Homo sapiens: one gene and its partners. The protein of the gene in region 1 interacts with the protein of each later gene in a pairwise test. Each region holds a gene or a part of one and is shown in the gene's direction. Other genes may lie near its edges.

Evidence for each region. Proteins that work in one complex are often made in the same cells at the same time.
Region 2: the proteins of MNDA (region 1) and SETDB1 interact in binary tests that used the Homo sapiens proteins (3 or more experiments, as listed by UniProt).
Region 3: the proteins of MNDA (region 1) and TOR1A interact in binary tests that used the Homo sapiens proteins (3 or more experiments, as listed by UniProt).
Region 4: the proteins of MNDA (region 1) and A2M interact in binary tests that used the Homo sapiens proteins (3 or more experiments, as listed by UniProt).

Annotation. Positions count from the first base shown.
Region 1 is NC_000001.11:158,833,574-158,838,767, forward strand, and holds part of MNDA (myeloid cell nuclear differentiation antigen), read left to right. Parts: intron 1-5,194. UniProt on the Homo sapiens protein: May act as a transcriptional activator/repressor in the myeloid lineage. Plays a role in the granulocyte/monocyte cell-specific response to interferon. Stimulates the DNA binding of the transcriptional repressor protein YY1.
Region 2 is NC_000001.11:150,953,863-150,958,209, forward strand, and holds part of SETDB1 (histone-lysine N-methyltransferase SETDB1), read left to right. Parts: intron 1-4,347. UniProt on the Homo sapiens protein: Histone methyltransferase that specifically trimethylates 'Lys-9' of histone H3. H3 'Lys-9' trimethylation represents a specific tag for epigenetic transcriptional repression by recruiting HP1 (CBX1, CBX3 and/or CBX5) proteins to methylated histones.
Region 3 is NC_000009.12:129,816,790-129,821,136, reverse strand, and holds part of TOR1A (torsin-1A precursor), read left to right. Parts: intron 1-2,216; coding exon 2,217-2,392; intron 2,393-2,489; coding exon 2,490-2,617; intron 2,618-4,347. UniProt on the Homo sapiens protein: Protein with chaperone functions important for the control of protein folding, processing, stability and localization as well as for the reduction of misfolded protein aggregates.
Region 4 is NC_000012.12:9,073,573-9,077,919, reverse strand, and holds part of A2M (alpha-2-macroglobulin isoform a precursor), read left to right. Parts: intron 1-62; coding exon 63-219; intron 220-499; coding exon 500-574; intron 575-983; coding exon 984-1,164; intron 1,165-3,136; coding exon 3,137-3,360; intron 3,361-4,347. UniProt on the Homo sapiens protein: Is able to inhibit all four classes of proteinases by a unique 'trapping' mechanism. This protein has a peptide stretch, called the 'bait region' which contains specific cleavage sites for different proteinases.

The DNA of each region.
Region 1 (5,194 bases):
ACAGTAAGCGTGTGCTTTTTGTGACTGGCTTTTTTCATTTCATGTTCTCAAAGTTCATTCATGTTGTATTGTATCATGTGTCAGAATATTCTTTCTTCCTAGGGTAGAATAATATTCCATTTCATGTATTTACCATAAAATACGTAAGAAACCATATTTCTTTTTATTCATTCATCCATTGAAGGACACTTGTAATACTTTCACATTTTTCTGTTGTGATTAATGCTGCAATGAACATATATGTACATGCATTTATTTGAGATCACACTTTCACTTATTTTGGGAATATATCTAGAAGTGAAATTACTGAATCATATGGTAATGTTATTTTTAATTTTAAGAGTAAGAATCATATTTTTTTCATAGCATCTGAACCATTTTACATTCCTACCAATGATGTACAAGGTTTCCCTTTTTTACTCATCCTCACCAACACTGGTTATTTTCTGTAGTTATTTTTTTGACAGTACCAAAAAACATCATCCTAGGAGCTCCGATGTTTTGTGCATGTATGTTTTTAATTGTTATATCTCATTGTGGTTTTTATGGGTTTGATTTGTATTTTTCTAAAGATTATTGCCGTTGAGCATACTCATATGTGCTTATTGGCCATTTGTATAGCACCTTTGAAGAAATGTCTATTCAAGTCCTTTATCAATTTTTTTTTTTTTTTTTTTGAGACGGAGTTTCGCCCTGTCGCCCAGGCTGGAGTGCAGTGGCGCGATCTCGACTCACTGCAAGCTCCGCCTCCCGGGTTCACGCCATTCTCCTGCCTCAGCCTCCCATGTAGCTGGGACTACAGACACGCGCCACCATGCCCGGCTAATTTTTGTATTTTTAGTAGAGAAGGGGTTTCACCGTGTTTATCAATTTTTATCACACTGTTTGGATTCTGTTGTTGTTGGAGTTGATTTGTAGGAGTTGGCTGTATATTCTGGATATAAAGCACTCATCAAATATATAAAGTGTGAATATTTTCTCTCATTCTCTAGGTTCCCTTTTTTACTCTGTTAATTGTGTCTTTGATGTATATAAAAATTAAATGTTGTTGTAGTCTAATTTATCTATTTTATTGTTGTTGTTGTTGCCTGTGCCATCGGTGTCATGTCCAAGAAACCCATTGCCAAATCCAATGTCATGGAGCCTTTCCCTTTTGTTTTATTCTGAGAGTTTCATAGTTTTAATTCCTACATTTAGATATTTGATATACTTTGAGTTACATTTTGTATATGATGTAGGTAAGGGTTCAACTTTTTGTATACAGATGTCACAATTGCCCAACAGCATTTTTGAAAAGACTGTTCTTTCTCATTAAACAGCCTTGACGTCCATGTCAAAAATCAATAAGCCATATTTCTCAGGGTTTATTTCTATGCTATCTATCATATTCCATTGTTCTTTATGTCTGTCTTTATGCCAATACCACACTGTTTTGATTATTGTGTCTTTATAACAAGTTTTGAAAGCAGGAAGTCTGAAACCTCCATGTTCTTGTTTTCAAGATTAAAAAAGGCTATTTAAAGTACCTTTAAATTCTACATGAATTTTAAGACAAATTTTTGTGTTCGTGTAAAAAACACTTCTGGGATTTTGCATTACAGATTACATTGCAAATTGCATTGCATATGCAGTTCCTTGGGTATTGACACCTTAACAGTATCAAGTCTTCTAACCCCTGGACACAGATGCCTTCCCATGTACATTTGTGCCTTCTTTAATTCCTTCAAAGTGTTGTATAATTTACCACCTTGATTAAGTTTATTCCTAAGTATTTTACTACTTTAAGCTATTGTATACAGAAAAAGAACTGTTTCCTTAATTTCCTTTTTGTTCGTTGTTAGCGTATAAAAACACAACTGATTTGTATGTGTTGCCTTTGATTCCTGTAACTTTGCTGGATTTGTTTATCAATTCTAAGTATTTACATAGAATCTTTGGGACTTTCCACATATAAGATCATATCACCAGTAAAGAGAGAGAATTTACCTTTTTTCTTTCTTATTTGGATATTTTATATTTTCTGTTTATTGCCTATTTTTGGTGGGGGCGGGGGGTGGGTGTTAAACCCTCAGTACTATCTCAAACAGAAGTGAACAAAAAAATCATCCTTGTCTTTTTCCTGATGTTTCAGGAGCAAGAGAAATGTTTTCAGTCTCTTACCATTGGGAATAATGTTAGCTATGGTGTTTTCGTATGTAGACTTTACTATGTTGAAGTAATTTTCTCCTATTCTTCGTTTACTGAGTGTTTCTAACATGAAAGGCTATTTAATTTTGTCAAATGCTTTATTTATTTTTTGCATCAATTGAGATGATCATTTTTTTTTTGTCTTTCATTCTGGTAATGTGGTGTATTATCTTAATTGATTTTTACAAGTGAAAAATGAGCATCTGTGTATTTTTCCTCATCTTTCAGGAATAAGAGAAATATTTTCAGTCTTTTACCATTAAGAGTGTTAATTGATTGTTGCATGGTGAGCCATCATTGCATTCCAGGGATAAACCTTAAATGGTCATGATGCATAAATAAATTTAACGTGCTATATAATTATGTTCGCTAGCATTTTGTAAAAAAAAAATGCATCGACATGCATAAGGGATATTGTTTAGAAAATTTTATTTTTCTAGTGCCTCTGTCTGGCTTTGCATTGGAGTAATGCTGAGTCATACAATGAGTTTGGAAGTGTTCCCTCCTTTTCAAATTTTGAAAGACTTTGAGGAATTTTGGTCTTAATTCTTCTTTATATATTTGGTAGAATTTACCAGTAAAACCACTTAGTCTGGACTTTTCTTTATTGAGAGGTTTTTGACTTCTGATTCAGTCTCCTGACTAGTCATAATGACTGTTCGGATTTTCTATTTCTTTATGATTCAAAATTTGCAGGTTGTATGTTTCTAATAATTTATCCATTTATCCATTTCATTTAGGTTATCCCACTTATTGATGTATAATTGTTCAAAGTATTCTCTTTATTTCTGTGAAATCTGTTGTAATGTTCTCTTTTTAGTTTCTGATTTTATTATTTGAGTCTCCTTCTTTTTCTTCTATGTCAATTCAGTTAAAGTTCTGTCAGTATTATTCACATTTTCAGAAAACCAACTCTTTTTTTTATTGATTTTCTTTATTATTTTTCTAATCTCAATTTTACCTCTAATTTTTATTTTTTCCTTCCTTTTGATGGCTTTTGGTTTAGTTTGTTCTACTTTTTTAAGTTCCTTATGGTGTAAAGTCAGATTATTGATTTGAGAGTCTTCTTTGTAAATGTAGTTGTTTAAATCTGTAAATTACCCTCATCACCATATTCTTTGCATTTAATGAAATGATATGTTGTGTTTCTATATAATTTCTCTAAATATGGATTTAAATTTGACTTGTGATTCTTTGTACATGTTTCATTGTTTGTGTTGTTTATTTTCACAGGGTCATGAATTTTCTAGTTTTCTTTCTGTTGATTTCTACTTTTATTCCATTATGATAAAAAAATATACTCTGTATGATTTCAAACGTTTAACATTTATTAACACTTGTTTGGCATCCTAATTTGTGGTATATGTTGGGACAATGTTCCATATGTTCGTGTGAAAAATGTGTATTCTACTGTTGTTGGCTTTACTGTTTTGGATATATCTGTTAGATATAATTGGTCTATAAGTGGTCTATAATGTTTTTCAATATTTATTTTTTCCAAATTTTCTTCTGTCAGATTGTTCTACCTATTATTGAAAGTGGAACATTAAAGTCTCTTACTATTACCTTAGAGTTGTCTATTTCTCCCTTCAATTCTGTAAATGTTTCATATATTAGGAGCCCTGATGTTTTGTGCATGTATGTTTCTAATTGTCATATCTTCTAGGTGAACTGGCCTTTTTAACACTATGTAATATTCTTTGTCTCTTATAACACTTTTTGACTGTTATTTTTATTTTATCTGATCCTAGTATAGCAAACTCTGCTCTCTTATTTAATATTTCAATGGAATATCTCTTTTATTCCTTCACTTTCTATCTTTGTCCTTACATCTGTAAAATGAGCCTCTTGTATGCAACATATACTTGGATCCCCTGTTTTTAAATTCATTGTGATATATATGTATATATAATTTTAATATGCTTTTTGATTAGTAAGTTTAAACCATTTACATTTGAACTAATTATTGATAAGGAAGAACTTAGAACTTATTGTTGCCATTTTTTATTTGTTTTCTGTATGTCTTAATAGGTTTTTGTCTCTTAGTGACTTCTTTTTGTTGATTTTTTTCTGTAGTGAAACATTTTTATGTTCTTCTATTCCTTTGTGTACATCCTACAGATATCTCTGTGGTCATCATCAGGTTGCATATGATATTCTAAAGTTATAGCAATCTATTTTTAACTAATAACAACTTAACTTCAATCATATGCAAAATGTTTACTCCTTTACAGCTCCCCAACACATATTTTATGTTAATATTACAAATTGCATTTATATAATATGTACCAATTAACATTGATTTATAAATTGTTTTGCTTTCACATTTTAAATCCTATAAAATAATAAAAAATGATTACAAATCAAAATAGCAAAAGTCATGTTTCATGTTTATGTATATACTTACCTTTCATCAAGAACTTACATTTTTGTATGAGTTTGAGTTACCATCTAGCATCCTTGTGTTTCAGCTTGAAGAAATCTCTTTAGTATTTCTTTTAAGGTAGATATAGTGGTAATGAAATCCTTCAGCTTATGTTTATCTGGGAATGTCTTAATTTCTCTCATTTATGAATAGCAGGTTTCCCAGATATAGCATTTTTGATGGACAGACTTTTCTTTAAACACTTGAAATGTATTGTCCCACTACCTTCTGGTCTACAAAGTATTTGCTGAAAAATGTGCTCATAATCCTATTGAAGATTTCTTGGATATAATGAGTTGCCTTTTTCTTGCGCTTTTTAAATGATTTTCTTTTCGTCTTTGAGTGTTGGTAATTTGATAATAATGTGTCATAGTGTAAGTTTCTTTGAGTTTATCATAGTTGCAGCTTGTTTGGTTTCTTATATCTGTACATTTAGTCTTTTCTCAAATTTGGAAAGTTTTCAGTCCTTATTTACTCAATAATTTTGTTATTCCTTTCTCTTTTCCATCACCTTTTCAGACTTACATAATGCATATATTGTCCCACTTGATGAACTTTATAAGTTCTGTTCACTTTCCTTTA
Region 2 (4,347 bases), 7.9 Mb from region 1:
TTTTTTTTTTTAGATGGAGTCTTGCTCTGTCGCCCAGGCTGGAGTGCAGTGGCGTGATCTCAGCTCACTGCAAGCTCCGCCTTCCGGGTTCACGCCATTCTCCTGCCTCAGCCTCCCGAGAAGCTGGGACTACAGTCGCCCACCACCACGCCTGACTACTTTTTTGTATTTTTAGTAGAGACAGGGTTTCACCATGTTAGCCAGGATGGTCTCTATCTCCTGACCTCATGATCCGTCTGCCTCAGCCTCCCAAAGTGCTGGGATTACAGGCGTGAGCCACCGCGCCCAGCCTAAATTATTTTTTAAAAAATTAGCCGGGCATGGTAGATGCATGCCTGTAGTCCCAGCTACTTGAGAGGCAGAGGCAGAAAGATCACTTGAGCCCAGTAGTTCAAGGCTGCAGTGAGCTATGATCACACCACTACACTCTAGCCTGGGGTGACAGAGCATGACTCTTATCTCTAAAACAAGAGGAGGACAACAAAAGAGTGGGGTATAGCATGGTAAACTGGTATATATAAACACGTGAACTAATAAACCTAGTGATCAGAATACATAATTAACAGAACAGAGGAGAAAAGCATCAGTGAAATAATTCAGAAAGTGTCCCATAATTGAAGGATCTTTGTTTCTGAATTGAAAGGGCCAGTTAGGTCCCAACATAATGAAGGATAAAGGTAGGTTCCCATTAAGAGACATTATCATAAAATGTCAGAACACTGAGGGAAAAAAAAATCCTAAAAGCTTCTAGAGAAGAGAAATAGAACACGTTAAAAAATAGACTTGAAATGACTTCAGCCTTCCCTGAAAGTAGCACTAGAAGCTAGATAGCAATTGGAGAATCTGTTCAGAATTCTAAGGGAAAATTATTTCCAACCTGGAATTTTAAACTCGGGCAAACTATCAATTTGGTGTTACAGTAGGCTAAATACATTTTTTTAGACATGCAGTACCTCAGAGTTTTTCATCATTCCCCTTCTCAGAAAGTTTCTGGAAATATTTGCAAAAATGAGAGGGAAAGGCAGGAAAGGGGAAGACAGGTGACAGTGCAGTGAAAGAGGCTTCCAGGCTGACAGCTGTGTACTAGGCATAGAGAAGAGCCACTGCAGGAGCAGGTCAGATGCTGTAGGAGCGACTTCTTCAGGAAAATTGGTTTAACAGAAAACCTGAGGTGCCTGAATACATTCAGAGGAGATCGAGACTACTGGGGAGATCATAGGATGAATTTGTACTGATAACATTGAAAAACTAAACAAAGGAATAGACAGTTGTTTAGTTGCATTGCTGTATCATGTATGTTTTAATTATTAACAAAATTTTGAATCTAACAATAGCGTTTAGATTTGATAATGCTGGGTGGTACATGAGTGTTCATATCTTTTTTACACGTTTGAAATGTTTCATAAAAATATTTTCAAATAATCACAAATAATATATCACTCCCCTGCTTAACTCTATAATATAGTCCCTCTGCTGTTTGGATTTTATTCTGACTCTTAACCTTAGGTTATATATTTGGCCCTTTCCTGTCTCCCTCCAAAGTCATTCCAACCACACTGATATTTTTCAGTTCCTGGATCCAGTTCAACCAGTGTTTTCCAGCCTGCCTCTGGAGACTTGCACATGCTGTGCCTTCTTCTTGGCATCCTTCCACTTTTCTTTGTGTGGCTATCTTCTTTAACCTTGAGCTTTCAGCTGTAAAGTCACCTCCTCAGAGAGACCTTCCCTGACCACTTTAAAACTAGGTCATTTTACTCCCTTAATTCTCTCATTGAGCACCATGTTTGTGTTCTTTATAGCATTTATGACAACTTTTGTTGACTTGTTTTTCTTTTTTTCTATTATATAAGCTCCTTCATGAGGGCAAGGATCTTATCTGTCTCTTTGTCTTGCTAACCATTGTATCACCAGTTTACCCAATGCCTGGCACATAGTAATCACTTAGGCCAGGTGCAGTGGCTGATGCCTGTAATCCCAGCACTTTGGGAGGCCAAGGCGGGCAGATCACTTGAGGTCAGGAGTTCGAGACCAGCCTAGCCAACATGGTGAAACCCTGTCTCTACTAATAAAGTATAAAAAATTAGCCAGGCGTGGTGGCACATGCCTGTAGTGCTAGCTACTCAGGAGGCTGAGATGGGAGAATTGGTTGAACCCAGGAGGCAGAGGTTGCAGTGAGCCGAGATTGCACCATTGCACTCCAGCCTGGGCGACAGAAGGAGACTTCGTCTCAAAAAAAAAAAAAAAGCCAAGCGCAGTGGCTCACGCCTGTAATCCCAGCACTTTGGGAGGCCGAGACAGGTGGATTACGAGGTCAGGAATTCAAGATCAGCCTGGCCAAGATGTTGAAACCCCGTCTCTACTAAAAATACAAAAATTAGCCATGTGCGGTGGCAGGCGCCTGTAATCCCAGCTACTCCAGAGGCTGAGGCAGGAGAATCACTTGAACCCGCGAGGTGGAGGTTGCAGTGAGCCAAGATCCCACCACTGCACTCCGGCCTAGGCAATAGAGTGAGACTCCGCCTCAAAAAAAAAAAAAAAAGTAACCACTTAAATTTTGTGGAATGAATGAATGATAGTATAGCTACTGTAAAGGTTTCATGTGGTAATAATGACACCTGAGTTCAAATTCCAGCCCTGCCCCTACTGAGCTGATCTTTTTTGATCAGCTGTAAACAGAGGATATTAACATAAACACCCCCATGTCCCCAGTGGGGTTTTAAGGGACCTAACAAAGTTGTTTCTTGATCTGGTGCAGGTTACATGGTATGCTGAGTTTGTAAAATTCATTGATCTGTATAGACTTACGTGTACTTTCCTCTGTGTATATTACGTTTCAATAATCTTTTATTTCCCCCTACCCACTAGACCACCAGGGAAATAATCTCTTTTTTTTTTTTGCTATGGAGTCTTGCTCCCAAAGTGCTGGGATTACCGACATGGGAAATAATCTTTTTTAAAGTTAGAAAAAAAAGCTAGACATGGTGGCTCACACCTGTAATCCCAGCACTTTGGGAGGCCGTGGTGGGGGGATGGCTTGAGTTCAGTAGTTCCAGACTTGCCTGGGCAATGTGATGAGACCTTGTCTCTACAAAAAAAGTTTTAAAAATTAGCTGGGCATGTGGCATGCAGCTGTGGTCCCAGCTACTTAGGAGACTGAGGCAGGAGGATCACTTGAGCCCAGGAGGTCAAGGCTGCAGTGAGCTGTGTTTGTGCCGCTGCACTATGGTCTGGGTGACAGAGCAAGACCATGACTCAAAAAAAAAAAAAATGGGAGGTCGAAGCAGGTGGATCACCTGAGGTCAGGAGTTCAAGACCAGCCTGGCCAACATGGTAAAACCCTGTCTCCAATACAAAAATTAGCAGGGTATGATGGCATGCACCTATAATCCCAGCTACTTGGGAGGCTGAGGCAGGAGAATCGCTTGAACCCAGGAAGCGGAGGTTGGGCGACAAAGCGAGACTGTGTCTCAAAAAGAAAAAACACCACCTGTATTAGGGCAGCTTTAAGGATAGAATATGTATATATAAGGCATTCACACAATGCCAAACACAAAAGTATATGCTTAGTAACTAGAAGCTGCTCTTACCATCTTTATCTGGAGAGAGGATATGACTAAAATCGTGAACTAACTGAGCTGTTGATACATTTCCAAAGTAAATTTCTTCCATTGATTTTACATACCAAGAAAATAAGTAAAATTCTAACACTGGGCAAATAGAGCAAAAACATTGTTACCTGAAACAATTAGTTTTCTTAGTATAACTGTGTTATCTTCCTTTAATGTTGGTATGTGCTAGATCCCTCTGATTACCTTTAATGGTTGTTTAAAAATAATTAAAATTTTTTTCTTTTTCAGAGATGGGGTGGACTTGCTTTGTCATTCAGGCTGGAGCGCAGTGGTATGATCATAGCTCACTGAAACCTCGAACTCCTGAGCTCAAGTGATCTTCTCACCTCAGCATCCTCAGTAGCTGGGATTACAGGCATGAGCCACTGCGCCTGGCCCAAATTCTTAAATTAGATAGAATATGAGCTCCCCTGGGCTGGGCACGGTGGCTCACACCTGTACTCCCAGCCCTTTGGTTCGCTAAGGCAGGCGGATCACATGAGGTCGGGAATTCGAGACCAGCCTGATCAACATGGATAAACTCCATCTCTACTAAAAATACAAAATTAGCAAGGCACGGTGGCGCGTGCCTGTAATCTCAGCTACTTGGGAGGCTGAGGCAGGAGAATCACTTGAACACGGGAGGTGGAGGTTGTGAGCTGAGATTGCGCCATTGCACTCCAGCCTGGGCAATGAGAGCGAAACTCTGTCTCCAAAAAAAAAAAAAAGAGCTCCCTGA
Region 3 (4,347 bases), on another chromosome or scaffold:
GAGACAGGGTTTCACCTTGTTGGCCAGGCTGGTCTCAAACTCCTGACCTCAAGGTCATCCAGCTGTCTCTACTTCCCAAAGTGCTGAAATTACAGGTATGAGCCACCATGCCTGGCCTCAATCAGTTATTTATCCCTGACTGTATCTATGGAAAAATGTGAACACATTTTTCCCTTCTGTCTGGGTGAGCGTGTGGGTCACCCACTGTCCAGCGGTTCTGTACTAAAATGCGAATGTTCCACGGGTGTGGTGGCTCATGCCTATAATTCTAGCACTACGGGAAGCCAAAACCGGCTGATCCCTTGAGCTCAAGAGTTCCAGACCAGCCTGGGGAACATGGTGAAACCCCATCTCTACTAAAAAAATACAAAAAAATTAGTCAGGCATGGTGGCATGCACCTGTAGTCCCAGCTACTTAGGGGGCTGAGGCAGAAGGATGGCTTGAACCTGGGAGGTCGAGGCTGCAGTGAGCAGACAGCCACTGCAGTCCAGCCTGGGTGACGGAGTGAGACCCTGTCCCAAACAAACAAGAACCATTCTAGACGAATCAGGATAAGTTGATCATCTTAGAATTGAGGCTTCACTAACAATAACTGTGACTTTGGGCAAAGTTACTTCACTTGTCTGTGCCTCAGTTTTCTCATTTGTAAAAGAAGGAGCACAATGGTAACTACCGTGATGGGTTTTGGGAGGTCACAGTAAAATGTTCTATGAACAGACCAGGTGTGGTGGCTCGCGCCTGTAATCCCAGCACTTTGGGAGGCCGAAGCGGGTGGATCACAAGGTCAAGAGTTCAAGACCAGCCTGGCCAAGATGGTGAAACCCCATCTCTACTAAAAATACAAAAATTAGCTGGGCGTGGTGGCAGGTGCCTGTAGTCTCAGCTACTCAGGGGGCTGAGGCAAGGGAATCGCTTGAATCTGGGAGGCAGAGGTTGCAGTGAGCTGAGATCATGTCATTGCACTCCAGTCTGGGTAACAGAGCGAGACTGTCAAAAAAAAAAAGTTATATGAACAGTGCTTAGAATATTGTTGTTCCCATAGTGAACACTCAGTGCATGTTCCCTGTTATTGCATATAAGTTTGGTCACCAGAGTGAGAAACCTTGGCTGCTGGAGCCTAACAGGTCTGAGTGAATCCTTGTTTATTTTATTTATTTATTTTATTTTATTTTATTTATTTATTATTATTATTATTTTTTTTTTTTGAGACGGAGTCTTGCTCTGTCTCCCAGGCTGGAGTGCTGGAGTGCAGTGGGGTGATCTTAGCTCACTGCAACCTCCACCTCCCAGGTTCCAGCGATTCTCAAGCCTCAGCCTCCCAAGTACCTGGGATTACAGGCGCCTGCCACTATGCCTGGCTAATTTTTGTATTTTTTTTTTTAATGGAGTCTTGCTCTGTCGCCACGCTGGAGTGCAATGGCTTGATCTTGGCTCACCGCAACCTCCGCCTCCCAGGTTCATGCAATTCTACCTCAGCCTCCTGAGTAGCTGGGACTATAAGCACCTGCCACCATACCCAGCTAATTTTTTTGTATTTTTTTTAGTAGAGACCAGGTTTCACCATGTTGGCCAGGCTGGTCTTGAACTCCTGACCTCAGGTGATCCACCCACTTTGGCCTCCCAAAGTGCTGGGATTACAGGCATGAACCACCATGCCTGGCCCTAATTTTTGTATTTTAATAGAGATGGGGTTTCACCATGTTGGCCAGGCTGGTCTCAAACCCCTGACCTCAACTTATCCGTCTGCCTCAGCCTCCCAAAGTGCTGGGATTACAGGTGTGAGCCACCATGCCCGACCCCACCCCCTTTTTAAATAAAAATCAGTATCCTCATGACATCCCACATTGCCCCTTTGATGACAAAAGAGCAGCATCTCTGACAGCATCCGTGTGGCATCTCGCAGTGCGGGAACCGTAACCAAAGTATCGGGCTTTGGAGTGAGACAGGACTGGGTTCAGGTCCCAGCTCTGCCACATATAGTCTTGGGCAAGTGGAGTAAGCGCTCTCTGTGCCTCAGTTCCCTCATCTGTAAAATGAGAACGATAGTGCCCACTCCATGGGGTTGGTAGGAACAAAGAAGATTTTGGGCATGTAAAGTTCTTAGTGCCGAGTGCACAGTGGTCTGTAAGTGAAGCTGCGGTTCTTAGTGGTAGAAGGAGCTGATTGATGGCCCTGGCTGAGAACTTTGTGTTCGCTTTTTCCCCTTTTAATTCAGGATCAGTTACAGTTGTGGATTCGAGGCAACGTGAGTGCCTGTGCGAGGTCCATCTTCATATTTGATGAAATGGATAAGATGCATGCAGGCCTCATAGATGCCATCAAGCCTTTCCTCGACTATTATGACCTGGTGGATGGGGTCTCCTACCAGAAAGCCATGTTCATATTTCTCAGGTAAGGTCAGGGCTAGGACATGATGGATGGGCCCCGAGCCCAAGCCTCTGAGCTCCAGGAGAAAACCCTGTCCTTACCCACTGGGATTGTTTTGCAGCAATGCTGGAGCAGAAAGGATCACAGATGTGGCTTTGGATTTCTGGAGGAGTGGAAAGCAGAGGGAAGACATCAAGCTCAAAGACATTGAACACGCGTTGTCTGTGTCGGTTTTCAATAACAAGAACAGTGAGTAGGGCCATCCACCGCCAGTCCCATCTGGTTCCTAATCCTGCACCCTAAGTGTTAAAAGCATCAGGGTCACTGTCAGCATCACCTGGGAGCTGGGTAGAAAGAAATGCAGATTCTCAGTCCCCTTCCGAGTCATGAGGGGAATCTTTGCTGATGAACTCCAGGTAACTTTTATGAACACTAATGTTTGACAAGTGCTGTTTTATTTTTATTTTTCAGATAGTTTTACTCTGTCACCTAGGCTGGAGTGCAGTGGCGTAACCTTGCCTCACTGCAACCTCTGCCTCCCGGGCTCAAGCGATTCTTGTGCCTCAGCCTCCTGAGTAGCTGGGATTACAGGTGCACACCATGCCCAGCTAATATTTGTATTTTTAGTAGAGATGGGGTTTTGTCATGTTGGCCAGGCTGGTCTTGAACTCTTACCTCAGGTGATCCGCCCACCTCGGCCTCCCAAAGTGCTGGGATTACAGGCGTGAGCCACTGTGCTCAGCTTATTTTTTGAGACAGAGTCTCACTCTGTCACCCAGGCTGGAGTCCAGTGGTGTGATCTCAGCTCACTGGAGTCTTGACTTCCTAGGCTCAAGTGATCCTCCAGCCTCAGCTTCCCATGTAGGTGGAACCACAGGCTTGCGCCACCATGCCTGGCTAATTTTTTTTTTTTTTTTTTTTTTTTTTTTTGGTAGAGACTGGGTCTTCCTATGTTTCCCAGGCTGGTCTTGACTTCCTGGACTTAAGTCATCCTCCCGCCTCAGCCTCCCAAAGTGCTGGAATTATAGGCATGAGCTACATACCTGGCCTGCTGTTTTTTTTTTTTTTTTGAGATGGAGTCTCGCTCTGTTGCCCAGGCTGGAGTGCAGTGGCGCGATCTCGGCTCACTGCAAGCTCTGCCTCCCAGGTTCACACCATTCTCCTGCCTCAGCCTGCCGAGTAGCTGGGACTACAGGCACCTGCCACCACACTCGGCAAATTTTTTGTATTTTTAGTAGAAACGGGGTTTCACCATGTTAGCCAGGATGGTCTTATCTCCTGACCTCGTGATCCGCCTGCCTCGGCCTCCCAAAGTGCTGGGATTACAGGCGTGAGCCACCACGCCTGGCCAGTTCCCCCATTTTCTTCAGCTACATGATTTTCTTTGTAGAAGAAAGAGCCAGTGGTTGAGCAAGGAAGGATGCCGTGGGCAGCTCAGGGGGAGAGATGACCTGTTAGTTCCTCCCTTTCTCTGCATTGCCCAAGAGCAACAGCCAAATAGCGGTTCGGCCCTTATTTTGTACTGGGCACCGTGTGAAACAGCCTGCCTGCGGATTTCACTCAGTCTTCACCATACCTCGCAGGGTAGAGACTGAGACTCAGAGATGTGGCAGCTTGCCCAGGGCCATGCAGCCTGTTCGGTATCTCTGATTCTAAAACCTGAGCTTTTAAGTTTTAGCTCACTACTTCTCCAAATGTCATGAGACCTTTGACCTTGAACCTGGGGAGGTGGAAAGCCAGCCTGATGGAGGCTGACTCACTGGCTAAGACCTGTGAGTTGTGCAGGGCTGGCTGTTCAAGTCTTTGCGCTTCAGGTTCTGGAGATGACAAAACAGAAGGGCTCATTTGAAACAGACTTGCCAAGAAATTAATCCTACAGTTAGTGAACAGCATGGGGTACAGTATGTCAGTGTGTGCAAGTGGAATACTACTGAGGAAAGACAAGTATTTTGTAACATGTTGGATAGTTTCTTGCCTTG
Region 4 (4,347 bases), on another chromosome or scaffold:
GTGAAGTGGTTATAAAACCATTTTGACAACATAAACATCATGATTGCTTCCTCCCTGGTCAGGCTCACAGCCTTTGTTCTGAAGACTTTTGCCCAAGCTCGAGCCTACATCTTCATCGATGAAGCACACATTACCCAAGCCCTCATATGGCTCTCCCAGAGGCAGAAGGACAATGGCTGTTTCAGGAGCTCTGGGTCACTGCTCAACAATGCCATAAAGGTGAATCATTCTGGAGCTAGTTTTGATTTGTCCATTATGATATCTGCAAGGATGAGGATAGGAAGTGATAATGTGAAAAATTCTAAGGGAAAGCCTCAGAGGAAAATAAAACCTGGATGGCACCAAAAAAGAGGGGATAGAACAAAAGTTGATTGTGATACTTTGCCCTATAGGGATGGATATGGGTAAGGATGAATTCCATGACACAGCAGAATAGAAAGAACTAATCAATAGCATTCTCAGAAGTTGAATTATTCAGATCTCTCTCTCGTATTCACAGGGAGGAGTAGAAGATGAAGTGACCCTCTCCGCCTATATCACCATCGCCCTTCTGGAGATTCCTCTCACAGTCACTGTAGGTACCACCCCATTCCTCTGCTGAAGGAGAGTTCTGGATGCAATGAAACTGCTGACCTGCTGTCTGAAATACTATCCTATTAAAAGCAAAGCATCAGCTTTCTTTCTATGCAATGCCAGTGCTTCCCAGATCTACAGAGAATTTGGTCAGCCCATTAAGAAAGGTTTAAATTTTCCCAGTAATTCCCCTAGGCTATTTACCACCACCACTCAAAAAAGAATCTTAAAGATGTATCTTTTGAATGTGAGAATAACAGATAAAAATAATATTATATCTATTGATAAGAATGAGGAATCGTTGGAAAAATGCGTTTGAAAAACTTCTGTGCTGTGATCCGTGTATTTGCCTGGGAATGCTAATATGCCTGTTTACATAGCTTAGTTCCCTTCTTGTTCTGCCTTCACAGCACCCTGTTGTCCGCAATGCCCTGTTTTGCCTGGAGTCAGCCTGGAAGACAGCACAAGAAGGGGACCATGGCAGCCATGTATATACCAAAGCACTGCTGGCCTATGCTTTTGCCCTGGCAGGTAACCAGGACAAGAGGAAGGAAGTACTCAAGTCACTTAATGAGGAAGCTGTGAAGAAAGGTGAGAGCACACCTGAGATCCTTCTCCTGGCCCATCCTCTGTATCAAGAACTGCATGGCAAAAATCCCTCACTCCTACCTCCTGTGATCCCTGTCTCCTCTCTTCTTTTCTATATATCATATATATTTTGTCCATATTGCATCTTATAAAATCTAGGATTTCTTAATCAAATCAGAAATCAGAAGACAAGAGGCCGTGCAGATGCTTCTCAATTACGATGGGGTTATATCCTGACAAACTCATTGTAAAGTCTAAAAAATCTTAAGTGGGACCATTGTAAGTCAGGGACCATCTCTATAGTATGCTGGTAAGAAGAGCATTCTCTGGAGACTAGCTCCAAAATGTGCTACCTATGTGAGCTTGGGAAAGTCATTAACTTCCTTGTGTTTCAGTTCCTTCATCAGTAAAATGGGGATAATAATAGTATTTACCTCACAGAGCTGTTGTAATAAATGAATTGGTACACGTAAAACACTTAGTAGAGTACATGTCACATAGCAAATCCTATAAAAGTACTAGTTATTACAATTAACATATCAGTTCTCAATATATGCCCAACCCTTACCTGGTACATTATATAACCTTAAACATAAGAAAATAATCATGGAAGTAACTCCTTGAATGAATTCTGGTATTTTAAGCCCATTTCATAAGACCAATAATGTTGACCAATCTACTCATATTCACACAGTACTTCTACATATACCATGGTCTATATGAGCGGTTGAAGAAATAGAAAATAAAATGCAAATCACAAGATGTCCATTAAAACAGTCTACCTTTTTCCTTTGACAGCCATTAATTCTTCTTAAAATGTATTGAGAAATATTTTATAATAGATATACAAAAGGGCATAAGCTATAACTAGAAAACACTGTACAACTCTCTCATAGATTAAGAAATAGAAAATTACCGACATGGGAAAAATAAATCCCTTGTGTATCACTACCACCTCCAGAGGCAATCATTATCCTGAATTTGTCGTTACAATTCCATGGATTTCCTTATATTTTTGCTGCATATGTATCCCTAACTAATATTTAGAATCTTCACATGTGTTTCATCTTGAGAGAAACAAGATTTTTATTTCTCTCTTATTCAAGAAACAAGAGAAACATTTTTGAATATTTCAGCAGCTTAGTTTTTTGTTTGTCTGCTTTTTATTTTCTAAGTTCAACACTATGTTGATGAAGACCCCTATACAAGTATGTGCAGAGTCAGCTCATTAATTTTCACTGCTGCATAATATATTACAGTCTATAAATTAGTCATAATTTACACATCGAGTTTCTCCTCATGGATTTTTTTTATGTTTTGCTATTAAAAAAAATGCTGCAATGAATACTCATGTGCCTGTTTTCTTGTGCATCTGTGTTTCTCCAAATTATGCTTTGAGAAGCATAATGACTGATTAGTGGGCTAAGCACATCTTCCCCATTGCTGAATATTGCCAAAGAGCAGTTGGCTTCCCACAGCAGTGTATATTGGTTCCCATTGTTTCACATCCATGTCAGCCTTTGGTATTTCAAGGATTACTGTATTTTTTTTTTCAATTTAATGAGTAGAAACTCTACTATTTCATGTGATCTGTGATCCTCACAAGAAACTGATAAAGACACACTTTATAGGAAATGTAACAAACTCCAGCTATAGTCTAATATAACATCATAAATAGGAAATAGCCAGACTCAATGAGACAACTGCTGTGCCATTTCTTTCTCCCACCAACCCGACTATAGCAACGATTTGAAAACATAGATAGGCATAGGCTTCTGACTCCAGCATCAATATCTGCCTTAGCTGGGCTAAAACACACCAAATTCAGATTTACATGAAGGGAAAAGCATCTACATACAGTACAGGGGATTATAATGGGCATGCAATTCTCATTTCAGCACTGGCTTGGGTACTTTCACCTTGAATTAAATATAAATATGTAGGCACTTATAAATATCTTTTTCTCATCTTTAAGACAACTCTGTCCATTGGGAGCGCCCTCAGAAACCCAAGGCACCAGTGGGGCATTTTTACGAACCCCAGGCTCCCTCTGCTGAGGTGGAGATGACATCCTATGTGCTCCTCGCTTATCTCACGGCCCAGCCAGCCCCAACCTCGGAGGACCTGACCTCTGCAACCAACATCGTGAAGTGGATCACGAAGCAGCAGAATGCCCAGGGCGGTTTCTCCTCCACCCAGGTTGGTGATTTGCCAAAACCTTTTATTTCACCTTCAGGTAGCAAAAGATTTGAATGAAAAAGAAACAAACACATCCAAGAAGAAAAAAATACAGATGACAGTAACTTGAAATGAGGAAAAGTTTTCAGTATCCAAGGATAATGGAAATAAAAGCAAATCAAAGTCAAAGAGGGCCAAAAGGAAATGCTCAGAATCCCGGCACCCCATCGCTGTGTTATTATCCATCTCCTATTTCCCATAACAACACTGCCTTCCTCAAGCAGCAGTGGAGCACCAGCAGAATGAAGGAGATGTCTCCTGCCATTCTCCTGAAAGCTCTAGGGTCTCTTTCAAACTGTTCAAAGGAACTCTACTCAAAATCCAACAACCTCTCCTCGCAAATCTCTCCATTCTTAGGTCCCCTTTAATAGGCTTTTCTCAAAACTACACATTTTGTGCTTCCCCTATTCACCTTTTTTTTTTTTTTTTTTTTAAGACAGAGTCTTGCTCTGTCACCTAGGCTGGAATGCAGTGGTGCAATCTCGGCTCACTGCAACCTCCATCTCCCAGGTTCAAGCGATTCTAGTGCCTCAGCCTCCCAAGTATCTAGGATTACAGTCATGTGCAATCATGCCTGGCTAATTTTTGTATTTTTAGTAGAGACGAGGTTTTGCCATGTTGCCCAGGCTGATCTCGAAGTCCTGAGCTCAGGCAATCCATCCGCCTTGGCCTCACAAAGTGCTAGGATTATAGGTGTGAGCCACTGCGTCCAGCCCCCTATTCACCTCTTAATACACAAACATTTATTCATCAGGAGCATAAAGAACTGTCTTTATTCATCCAACCTCCTAAATCTAGCTATATAACCATGTATCTGAACAATTCATTGATATGTACACAGCAGAAAGTTTTATCTTCAGAGAATTCGGATGTTTGCTTATATACCCTAAAACGGAAAAAATGTGACAAAATGGCATTCCATCCTATTTCCATTGTATTAATCTTTTA